3 separate regions of the Homo sapiens genome follow, and regions 1 and 2 are each linked to region 3. Evidence: fine-mapped expression QTL. A gene starts in region 3. Each other region holds a variant in brackets. All regions are shown on one strand. Distances are between the middles of the regions.

What was found. PIP is the estimated chance that this variant, and not a neighbour inherited with it, causes the effect. A credible set is the group of variants that fine-mapping cannot tell apart.
Region 1: its variant is the best candidate, but not a certain one, in a credible set for the expression of CA13 in whole blood (INTERVAL, PIP 0.72).
Region 2: its variant is the best candidate, but not a certain one, in a credible set for the expression of CA13 in whole blood (TOPMed, PIP 0.61).

The regions. Positions count from the first base shown.
Region 1 is chr8:85,279,789-85,284,036 of GRCh38, forward strand. It overlaps CA13 (carbonic anhydrase 13), which reads left to right. Exons shown (of 7, transcript NM_198584.3): 7 at 1,442-4,248. The coding sequence ends at 1,561. Among named protein-coding and RNA genes, the nearest start is that of CA13, 36 kb to the left of the region's middle. The variant A/C (reference allele first, on the strand shown) is at 2,344.
Region 2 is chr8:85,566,447-85,570,694 of GRCh38, forward strand. No RefSeq gene overlaps it. Among named protein-coding and RNA genes, the nearest start is that of CA3-AS1, 100 kb to the left of the region's middle. The variant G/T (reference allele first, on the strand shown) is at 2,241.
Region 3 is chr8:85,243,233-85,247,480 of GRCh38, forward strand. CA13 (carbonic anhydrase 13) reads left to right here and starts at 2,226. Exons shown (of 7, transcript NM_198584.3): 1 at 2,226-2,633. The coding sequence starts at 2,597. LOC105375936 (a long non-coding RNA gene) reads right to left here and starts at 253. Exons shown (of 3, transcript XR_929126.3): 1 at 113-253. RefSeq lists a silencer at 2,481-2,560 and an enhancer at 2,921-3,030.

The DNA of each region.
Region 1 (4,248 bases), 37 kb after region 3:
TTATGATCTGCAGAAGGCTAGGTATCTTTCCTATGGTCTCAGAGGTTAGATTTTATTAGTCTCTGCTATTTGACTTGACCAGAGATTCTCTTCAGCCTCATGTGGTTTTAGCTATAATGATCTGGTCTAATGAAACATGAGTAATAGTACGTTGTAAACATTTGTCTCCTTCCCATATCTGTACTTAAAAAAAAAACAAAAACCTCAAAATGGCCGGGTGCAGTGGCTCCCGCCTGTAATTCCAGCACTTTAGGAGGCTGAGGAGGGCGGATCATGAGGTCAAGAGATCAAGACCATCCTGGCCAACATGGTGAAACCCCATCTCTACTAAAAATACAAAAATTAGCTGGGTGCGGTGGCACGTGCCTGTAGTCCCAGCTACTTAGGAGGCTGAGGCAGGAGAATTGCTTGAACCTGGGAGGTGGAGGTTGCAGTGAGCCGAGATTCTGCCATTGCACTCTAGCCTGGTGACACAGCAAGACTCTGTCTCAAAAAACAAACAAATAAAACCCTCAAAATATCACATGTGGAAAACATGGTTGCTTGTATGTATGATGGTTGATCCTATTGCCATAGAGCATGGTTATAAACTGTTGCCTATTTCTTATAAAGGACCTCTCTCTCCTCTGCCCCCGTCCTGGTTAGTACTGTACAAGAAACATTTTAGGCATCAGGTATTTGATGAAAACCTAAAGGATGTGAATTTGGTTGACTCTGAGATTAGATGGTTAACAAAATTTAGAGAATGTAGGTTCTCATTCCTAATAATTTGTCTTCATCAAAGTAAAACAAAATAAACACCAAAGATTTTCTTTTATTAATTGACAGTATAATTTTGGTGCATATTTTTGAGAAGATAAAATTAGTTTTAATTTTTCCAACTTCACTTTAGACCTGTACTAAATCTTAATAAGTGATATTAAACCACCAAGGGATTGTTAAAAATTTATAAAACATATTTATAATAGAAAAGTTTTCAGCAACAAAAAATAGTGATGTAGGTTGATATGTATTGGCATGCAAAGATGGCTAGGATATATACTAAGTGAAAAAATTAGGTTTCAAAACAGCATATATAGTTGAGTTCATTTTTGTCATAAAATGTATGTATGTATGTGTGTTTATAGATTGAAAAACATTGAAAAACATTCTCTGATTTCTAAATATTTACTCTTTAAACCACACTCTAGATGTTTCCTCTTGTTGGCCAGGCTGGTCTCAAATTAAAAATGCTTATACATTTAATTTTGGAACCTGTAGGTATTTGTACAGTGATGAGAATTTAGCAAAAGAGTTGCTTTATTATATATGACATGTAACAGAAAATTTTCATTGCAGTATTTTTTGTTCCTGGTTATAGATATATCTTCTTTATGCAGGGTAATTCATTAATATTGGTGGGAATTTCTATGCTGAAGCTAACTCTTTTCTTCTTCTACAGCTGGCCAAATTTCGCAGTCTCCTGTGCACAGCGGAGGGTGAAGCAGCAGCTTTTCTGGTGAGCAATCACCGCCCACCACAGCCTCTAAAGGGCCGCAAAGTGAGAGCCTCTTTCCATTAAAAATTGTCACCAATGAACTCCCCCAAACATGGCTGTGGAGAGACAACAAAACAAAACAAAGCACAAAAGTCTCTGCCAACAACTCTTTTGTGGAATTCTAATTTATAGGAAACATTTTAGTATGAGCTTCAGTGTCACAAAGAAAACCAGATCTCTCTCTCTTTTTTTTTTATTTTTTTTAGTGATAGAGTCTCACTCTGTCACCCAGGCTGGAGGGCAGTGGTACAGTCTTGGCTAATTGCAGCCTCCAACTCCTGGACTCAAGTGATCCTCCCACCTCAGCCTCCAGAGTAAGTAGGACCACAGGCATGCACAAGCATGCCTGGCTAATTTTTAAATTTTTTTTTTTTAAGAAATAGGGTCTTGCTATGTTGCCCAGGCTGGTCTCAAGCTCCTGCCCTAAAGTAGGCCTCCTGCCTTTGCCTCTCAAAGTGCTGGGATTTCAGGCATGGGTCATCAAGCCCAGCTGACCCAGAGCTCTTTACTAACTTATCTGTCTCTTATTTGCACTCATGGATATTCACAGTAAGCATTGTTTGACATATATTAAAACCCATGAAATATGTCTACTTCAACCTGTGTGAAAATATAGTTAACATTGCAAACTTTAGAATGTATTAAAAATTTTACCTTGCCATAGAGACTGAATTAGTCACAGCTCTCAGTGATGTTAGATGGAAACTTATATCTCAAATGATAGGATTGTGATGCTTTTTTTGTAACAAGTGATTCTGCTTAATATTTTGTTATTCCAGTTCATAAAAAGTAGATTACGTTTTCCT[A/C]TAAGGATAATTTTTGCAGTGATTATATTGCTAACTCTCATTGCATGATACCTTTAATAAAATGAACAATATAAGAGTTAAGGGCAATGGGATAAAGCTACTTAATGTGTCTCCTCCACTGATCAAAAATATTCCATATAGTCTTGGTGAGGAATTCCCCAGGATATAAATGGCTATTTACACTGTAATGAATTATACCATATATGATATTCACTCAGTAATGTTAATAATGAACTGGCTAATAATTGACAAGATGCAGTGCCTGCCAGTTTATGACATTAACTTGGTTTGAAACTAACATATGACATAGTACCAGTGCAGTCAGAGCTGCCCTTAGGCATGATGAACATGTGGCCCGTTTTTGCCTGGTGTTTTGGCAGCAAAGCAGGAAGCAATTTTGTGTGGGTCATTGTTCTGTCAATTTGTGGAAAAAATTACTTCAGTCTCATATAAATATAGAATGGGTCCATAAACCCTTCAACTCATTTCCATGGCAAAACTCACTTTTCTTTTTATACATGTCCTTCAGTCTCTTAATTTTGTCAGGTGGAGCTTGATCTTAATTTTAACCTATTATCTTTTATTTTTGTTTGTTTTTGGTGAAGGATAAGAGTGGTGTTTCTTTTGCCCTTTCTGGTACAAACAGAGGGACACTAAGCATTAACTTAATAATCACATTTAAGACTTGAACACATGCTACCCTTTTGTCATCTTCTGACATAAGTTTACCTGAGTTTCCTTGATTTGGAAGATTTGTTTCTTTTATCTCTCTTCCTCTGGATGTAGTTTTTTTTTGTTTTTTTTTTGTTTTTGGACGGAGTCTTAGTCTGTCACTGAGGCTGGAGTACAGTGGCACGATCTTGGCTCACTGCAACCTCCATCTCCCGGGTTCAAATGATTCTCCTGCCTCAGCCTCTTGAGTGGCTGGGATTACAGGCACATGCCACCACACCCGGCTAATTTTTGTATTTTTAGTAGAGATGGGTTTTGCAATGTTGGCCAGGCTGGTCTCAAACTCCTGACCTCAAGTGATCTGCCTGCCTCGGCCTCTCAAATTGCTGGAATTACAGTTGTGAGCCACCACACCTGGCTTGAATGTAGATTTTAATAATTGAATTTATTCTGCCGTGTTGATAGAATAACTGAATATCAGTAAATTGTGTAACAGTGGTGGATACTGTTGCATAAGATGAGCTCCTGAAGAGTGAAGCTAATTCTTTGGTCAATGTTCTTTTCCCCTCAGTGTCTAGTTTAAGGCTTTTAGAAGATTGATCTGTAGCAATTATTTAATGAATTGAATATTTAAAAAATTTTTTATTTGCTGTCTTTGGTAATTATCTCTCTGCTTGAAATTAAATGCACTATAAGTTAATATAACAAGTAAAATACATTGTCTTTTGAAAATAGTTTCTTTTTAAAGGAATACTAATTAATTGTAACTTGTAAAACCAAAAGTTCTAATGGTTTTTAAAAACCAGTGTTGAGTGGAAAAGTGTTTCTTTAGTTTGGAAAGACCTGTGAAGTATCCTAGTCAGGGAAAGAACCTGTTTTCTGGAAGAATGTAAGTTGCTATATGTGGAGGGGCATGTAGGACAGGGGTTCTAATTACTGTCTGTGAGAGTTACTACTTTGTAACTTATGGTTTCTGCTTCAGTATTGTGTTGGTTCTGTATTATAAATTGCACCTTAATAGACCAAAAATATCTATACAGCACTGATTTCCTTGAATATTGTGTGTTAATTGATATATCTTCTAGAGGCAAAAGGTTTAAATGTGTTAAAATGGTTATATTGCCTCCTTTTTAAACAAATTAAAGAGTTGTAAATACTAGTGTAGATCTCTTTTGTTTACCACAGCAAATACTGATTTTATGATTGTTAAGCATTTCATATTTTAATTTAAAT
Region 2 (4,248 bases), 320 kb after region 3:
GCTTACTTTCTATATTTGTTAGGGTGGCAAAGGCAGAATGTATTTAATGTGTATTTCTAATTGGAATTTGTATTTCTAATATATATATGTGTATACATATATACACACATATATATATCTCCAATTAGATGTATATATATACACATATATCTCCAATTAGAAATAATTGCTATGTGTATCTGTAATTGGATATGTGTATATATATATAAAATATATATTAGAGATACACATGAAGTACATTCTGTCTTTGCCACTCTAACAAATATAGAAAGTAAGCATATATATATATATACACACACACAAAATTAATTTTCCCAGATCTCACCACCTATGATACAAATGGAGTCATTTTAATAGATATCATTCAAACTCTACTAGCTTTTAAAAGCTTGCCCTGATCAAAAATAAGCTTAGCTTCCTCAATAGGTGTTTAGGGAGACCTGAGCATAGTTGGGGATTGAGCTTAAAGAGAGGTATATTATCATCTTAAACTGAAAATAAACCCTTTTTTTTGAAGACCAAAATCTCCTTACTGAGTCAAGTCCCTTGTATCTGAATCCTTTGGTAAGATTGGAGTCTCTCTCGGAAGTTTCTTCAGCCCTCTTGCAAAAAGATTTTAGCTGGCCCAGGCAGGCAAGTTCCCCAGACACATTCACGTGCTCTTGAACCCTGGCTACAGGTCAAGTGAGGACTCTTGCCACATATGAAATCCTTTATACTAAGAACTTTTTACAAAGTTCCCATTGTATTATCTCTTTCAAATATCAAAGCAGAAGTGTTTACTAAGTATAATTGTTCTAAATTTGGGGATGAGAAAACTGAACTGCAATGAGGTTAAGTAACTTGCCAAGGTTGTACCTCTAGTAAGTGGCAGTCCTAAGATCAGAACCCAAAATTTTAGAATCAAATCCAGGGATTTGATTCTAAACCCTATATCCCATTATATATATGTAAAATGATAGATAGTTTGAATGACAGATATAAAAGCTAGTAGAGTTTGAATATCTATTAAGATAACTTCATTTGCATCATAGGTGGTGAGATCTGGGAAAACTAGTTGTGTATATATATATGTATGTTTACTCTCTATATTTGTTAGGGTGGCAAAGGCAGGATGTATTTAATATGTATTTCTAATATATATTTTATATATATATGCATATCCAATTAGAGATACACATAGCAATTATTTCTAATTGGAGATATATATGTATGTGTGTGTATACATATATATACACACACACACATCTAATTGGATGTACATATACCATATATATATATACACACACACATATATACACACACACAAACACACACACATATATATATATATACACACACATATATATATATACACTTGGGATATAGGGTTAGGTAACACCTCCTATCTGTTATCTAATTTCATTGGCCAACTTTATAATGGCAGAGGAACCACCTGTGAGAAGAACCAGAACATGGTCTATGATAGGAATTCAAATATATATATGTGCCCAATTAATTAGAAGAGGGAAAAATGACAGAAAGCAAATTATAAGAAGGAATTGTGGGCCCCTTGAAAGAATTTACTCAAAGTGGGGAGACTCGGAGAAGGGTCTGCATCTGGAACTGGTGTAGGGCTGGAACCGGAACCCACCCTGATACCAGACAAACTGGAAGTTTCCTAATACCATAGGGAGGAAGATTTGTATTTAAATGTAGTGGGCTCTTGCAGCTTGGGTCACACACAAGTTTGCTGATCCAGAGGAGGAAGGGGCTTCCTCCTAATTTCCCAAAGGAGAAAGTTTCTGAGTAGACCACCTAAGCGGCCGTTTGCAGTGAGCAGCAGCACACAACAGAACAATAGTTCTGAGGATGCTGCAAGGGAATAACTGGCATCTGCTGAAGTAGAACTTCACAAGCCCTGGTCTAGGGTACACCAGGGAGATGATGGGTCCAGATCCATCCAGAAGCTGGCAGAGACAGTCCCTGGGGACGCTCAGAAGAAAGAGAGAGGGAGAGGGACCCTCAGAATTTGTCAAAGTAGTGAGTGTCATTGAGCTAAAGGGGAGTCTAAATAACACACTGATCTCATTTGAGTCCACAGGTTAATGAGGTCAGGAAAAATTTGGAAGACACTTATTAAGCCACCATGAGTGACCTAAGAAGCACAGATCAAGCAAAAATCTACGGATGTTGTTATATTTCTGGATTTAGGAATAACAGTTTATTGTTTGTGTCTGGTTAGTGATTCTGAGGGTGAG[G/T]TTAGAAATACACATGGTTTGCTAAATATGAATTTTGTTTATTCCAATTCTTACCATAACTGACAGGCTATAACTGCATGTATGAATTCCTTCTTTGTTTACTTTTTCCCATGGCCAAGGGGGGCCGGAGGACTGGTCTAATAATAAAATAATGCTTATTCTCCAGATGGTGTAGTAAGGTCAGAAATACATATTGGTGCAATTTTATTTTCAGAAAAAGCCTGTCTATAAATCTAAAGTGTCTTTTTTTAAGCATTTCAGATGGCATTTGAGATGTCTTGATATCTATTAAAGGTTTAGGTATTGAGGACTTTAAGACTTTTCTTCCATTAGTTAATGTTAATTGAGACTCAAAGGACCCTTGGACCCAGGGCTCCAAAGTCTACATTTGTGTGAGATGGTTGTTTTCCAGACTGTAGACTCCACTGTGGAGATTTTCTGTGTACTACTCTGAGCTCTAGGCCCAGAGAGTTCGAGCATTTCTTTGAGGAAAAAAAAAGAAGAATCTCTTCTTCCTGTTTCTGCCGTTTTGAACAGACACATGACACTGGCAGCAGCTGGCTTCCAAGAGGGATTATTTTCACTGAAGTTGGTGCTATGAATTATTTCTTTCCTTGTTATCTGAGGGAGAAATAAAAGTTGTACTCCAGGTATTTTGTGTTCTGTGAATCTTTCTTCCCAATGTAAAACCTAATTATTTGGCTTCTAACTGAACCCACTTCCCTTAAAGAAAGGGAAAATTCAAGTTCAGAGCTAAATAAATCTCCTCTCTGTCCCATTTAATTACAGAAATGAAGAATGAATAACCTGGAAAAAAACCATATAATGTATATATGCAGCTTTTTTTTTTTATTTCAGAAAAGGATTTTATTAAATTTTCATAATGTCCTAAGTTAAGAAAATCTTTTATTAAAAATTCTGATGATTTGCTTTTGCAGCCAAAGTTGTGGGAAGGAAAAAAGATTACAGACTTAAATTTTTAAAAATCAATATGTTGCCATTTATGAGAACAATATTTCAGGAGGGAAACCGGAGAATGCTCACTAGTCAAGAGTTGGGGACCACTCAACCCTGTTTCTTAATATTACAGAATTACAGTCTGCCTTTAAACCCCAGTATTCTCAGGTCCAACCCTTCCTCTGACAATCAATATTGTTGCAGAAATTGCTTTATGGGAATAACTTCATGATTCATAGGAGAGGGTGAGCCTTGTGCTCACAAGTAAATAAACTTTTTTGTTTTACAAGTAAATAAGTTTTTGTTTTGTTTTGCTTTGTTTTTTTGAGACAGAGTCTTGCTTTGTAACACGAAGGCTGGAGTGCAGTGGCAGCGATCTCAGATCACTGCAACCTCCGCCTCCCAGGTTCAAGCGATTCTCCTGCCTCAGCCTCCTGAGTAGCTGGGATTACTGGTGCCTGCTGCCACATCATGCTAATTTTTGTAATTTTAGTAGAGATGGGGGTTTCACAATGTTGACCAGGCTGGTCTCGAACTTCTGACCACAGGTGATCTGCCCACCTCGGCCTCCCAAAGTGCTGGGATTACAGACGTGAGCCACCGTGACTGGCCGTAAATAAGCTTTTAAAGTAAAAAATAATAACATGCATTTGAAAATATGGTGAGTAGCAAGGGTTGGTTTAAAAGAACAAAGGTGAATATGACATTGAAGTTCTGTAATGAGGTCCTGATGGTTTTACAAAAGTGTAAAAATTTAGCCTGGGGACGGTGCCTTGAGCCTGTAATCCCAGCATTTTGGGAGGCCCAGGTGGGAGGATTGTTTGAGCCTAGGAGTTTGAGACTAGCCTGGGAAACATGTGAAACCCCATCTCTACAAAAGTATAGAAAAATTAGCCGGTTTGGTGGTACACATCTCCAGGCTCCACTACTCTGGAGGCTGAGGTGGGAGGATCACCTGAGCCCAAAAGTCGAGAGACTGCAGTGAGCTTAACTGAGCTCATTAAGCTCAATTAAGTGAGCTTAATTGATCGCACCACTGCCCTCCAGCCTG
Region 3 (4,248 bases):
TGTGTGCAGTTTCTTATTTCTATTTTTTTCTTAAACATGCAGTCTATTATATACACTCTTTTGCTCCTTTGCTTCCCCCGCTCCCGCAACCTCAATACATCCCAGGACTCACTTTATATCTGCTCTGCTCATGGAGATCTTCATTCTTTTTATAAATGGACAATAGTCCATTGAATGGCAGCTGGGCGCAGTGGCTCACATCTGTAATCCCAGCACTTTGGGAGGCCGAGGCGGGTGGATCACCTGAGGTCAGAAGTTGGAGACCAGCCTGGCCAACATGGTGAAACCCCATCTCTACTAAAAATACAAAAATTAGCCACTAGTAATGCATGCTTGTAATCCCAGCTACTCTGGAGGCTGAGGCAGGAGAATTGCTTGAACCTGGGAGGTGGAGGTTGCAGTGAGCCGAGATCGCACCATTGCACTCCAGCGTGGGCAACAAGAGCGAAATTCCATCTGAAAAAAATATATATATATATAAGTCCATTGAATGATGGATGCTCTACAGATGACCTAACTAGTTTCCTATGAAAGGTAATTTGATTGTTGCCAATACTTAGGTTGCTGTTTTAGAAAATTATATAGACTGCGCTATGAATTTAAACAAGAAGGAACTTGAAACCACTACTGCAAAATTATAATTGAAACAGTGAAAGAGATTGGACCTAACCAACTCTATCTTATTTCTAACTTCTAAGCTGTCCTTACTCATTCTTAGGCATAGGCTGAACTAACTTTGAGGAGGAACATAGTTTATAGTTTAGAACAAAGACAATAACAGCCCTTTCCCAAAACAAACCTTCTTTCCTGGGGACTGGACCGCCTTTGCAGGACTAACAAATTAGCCAAAAGATTAGAAATTATGGTTTAGGAGTCATACAGCTGGAGGCTGTATGATTCTGACCCTCCCCAAATTGCTCCTGGGAATAACATCACTATTGTAAAGCCTAAGACCAGTGCTTCAGATATGTTGCAGACCCTGCACTGGATGGATCAGCAGGCACCACTCAGCTCGATAAACTGGCTCATCTGATCCCATGGCCCCCACCCAGGAACTGACTTAATGCAAGACAGCTTTGACTCCCTATGATTTCACCTCTGACCCAAACAACCAGGTCTCCCGACTTACTGGCTCTCCTCCACCCACCAAATTGTCCTTAAAAACTTTGATCCCCAATGCTTGCGGAGACTGATTTGTGTAATAATAAAACTCCAGTCCTCTGCACAGCCGGCTCTACGTGAATTTCCCTTTATGAATTGCAATTCCCCTGTCTTGATAAATCAGCTGTGTCTTGACAGTGGGCAAGGTAAACCCATTGGGTGGTTACAAACTGTGTACCCAAGCAATAAAAGTAACAATTTGGGAAGTATTTGAGACCCACCAACCAAAATTTCTTTAACAATTTTGGTCTATTCAGTCATTCATCCATTCATGTAACCACTATTATTGGGTGTCAAGAACTGATACTTACTTAGAACGTTAAGAGCATTATTCATCTTGACATACCAAATCATCCGAGTTACTGAAAATTGGTTTACTAGGTTCCTTACAAAGAGGTTGCTTGGATTTATAAAATATGAGGCAGTTGACCCGAGACAAGGACGTAGAAAGTGGTTCATGTACCCAATTTTTATTTTTCACTTTGAACCCAGAACATTCACGACTCCAGGCCAGAAATTCAAGACTCTGCAGCTAGTTCTGACTCCAGTCCTAGGGTAACAAGCCCACCAAGAATCCAGGGCAGATGTCCTGAAAACCCTTCTTGCGGGGTCAGGAGGGCAGCAGAATTTTGGGACCAAATCTCAACAACTGGTTTTGGTTTCCTCACTCACCAAGCCACAAGCCTGCAGAGTGAGAAGAGGTAAGGAAAGGATGAATGGGCAATGGAGCCAGCCCAGGACCGGGAGCTGGTCCTCTCTAACAGCGACCCCGCCCGCTTTAGCTGAGCGACCCGGGGCAGGTTACATAGTGTCTCTAACTTAAGCCACGTGTTTCTCGAGGAAATGCTGAGAGGATCTAATGGGAAAACGTGGGTACACGTCTTAGCTAAGACCCTCGCCCACGATAAGCCCTTAATAAGTAGTTATTTTTCAGTGGTGGTGATTACCATCGTCATTATTGTTTTGTATTTGTAATCATCACTGCCACGACCATCACCGACCTCTTTTACGCCTCCACCGGGATCCCCACCTCCCAGCCTGGCAGTTCCAGGCTCTGGTGACTCATTCACTTCCTGGAAGTCCTCTAGGCAACACTTTCCTCTCCCGAGTGACGACTCCTCAGAAGGCAGGAGATCCCCCCCGGAAACCTTTCTCTCTCCGTCTCTCCCTCTAACTCAAATCTCTCATTCCCGAGTCCAAACTAAGAGAGACTCGCGCCCCAGGAGTCAGCCAGCGGCGCGGGCGCCTTCCCCGCACGCCTCTGCCGTCTGGAGGACGCAGGCGGGAGCGCCCCGGACCGGGTTCACGGTCTCGCACTCCTGCCGCCGGCGCCCCGCGGTCCCGCCCTAGCAGGCTCCTTCCCGGGCCCCTCCCCGCTCCCTCCTCTTTCTCGCTGCTCAGTCACATCTTTCTCTTCCTTCCACCCCGAGGGACCATGTCGAGGCTCAGCTGGGGATACCGCGAGCACAACGGTGAGCGCCTTTTCCTGATCCAAGGGGGGGTTTGTGCGGGGGACGAGAGGACTAGCGCGACGCCCCGGCGCTCGCTGACCACACACTGGGCTCGCACATTGAGAAACTTTTTCGGTTCCTCTTTAAACTAAGCAGCACTCCTGGGAGCCCAGTGCGAGAAGCGGAGAGCAGTCTTGTCAGGGTAGACGGGTTGTTGGTGGTGGATGTGAGCGTTGGTGTGTGTTATCTCTGTCAGGATTCCCCAAACTCCCAAGTGTTCATACGTGTGAGTTCACCTTCATCTGAAAAGCCAAGGACTTTGCCTAGTAACAGCCACGTATCAATTACAGGCTTGGAGATCAGAAGTCTGATGACACACTTCAGTGAAATAAGGACAAGTTCGCTTTCAGTCTTTTAAGCTCACTATTCACTTAGGAGAAACAAATCATAGAAAATCTTTAAAAATATATTTAGGAAATCTTAACTTGCATTGTGACACTGAAGATTAAGTTGGCTTCGTGGCAAACAAAATACTGCATGTTTCCTAATAGTTGTTACTGTAAATATTCCCACAGCAATTTGCAGTTGGCTGACTACTACTGGGGACTTTAGTAAGGGTTCAGGTTCTCGCTGGGAAATTAAGTTACATTGTGGGTTACTTCTCCACTCTTCTTCTCCACGCTCATCCTTGCAGGGTGAGCAAAGGATTACTGAAATTATAATTCATTGATAGAAATGTATTAATAGGATAAATAATAATGACATACACTTTTCTTCTTGTATATCACACATTATCAAAAGTAAAACATTTTTTCTTGTTCCTACGTTAAACTGAACTGATTGTTTAAATAATAATTATTTGAAATAATCGCAGTGACACCAAAAAGCCTTATAGTGAATAACTGTCAAAATTAAGGCTTAGTTTAGCCATTCCTCAATGTGCATATATTTCAAAACATCATGTTGTACACATAAATATATACAATTTTTGTCAATTTAAGAAGTAAATACATAATAAAGAAAAAAATTAAGGCTGTGAATAATAATGCTTTCCTTCTATTAGCATGTACATGATTAAACAGTATAGAATGGTCAAATTTTATAGAAAGTTTAATTTCACAAACTAACAGAAAAATTCTATTTCTAATTGTAGCCTGTTTAATTTCTAATTGTAGCCTGTTTTTAAACATGCTAGTTTAAAAATGGCAGCAGGTGAAATTTATAACTTTAATAATAAAAGGTGTATAGTCAGATTTCTTCTTGATTAAGGCCATAATTATAATCTTACATTTTGCTAATTTCCAGTGAATGTTTAGGGGGAAAATATGACAAATCTTTTTTCATTTCCCTCTCTGCTGAAGTCGTTTTTATTGGAGTTATTTAATAGTCATTGAATCCCAACTGCGCCTTTATGGTAGTTAGGAAGAAGAAGGGTATTTCAATCAATCAATCAATGGATATTGATTACTCTTTAGTAGGTTAGAAATTATTCACCTGAATGAAGCTTATTTCAGCAATTTTAAAAATTCATCTTAGCAAAGCCATTAATAAGGAGTGATTTTGTATTTCTGTTAGGAATTGTTCTGTTAGGAATTAGCCATTCCTTTCTTTTAGATGCGATCTCTCTCTGAAGACC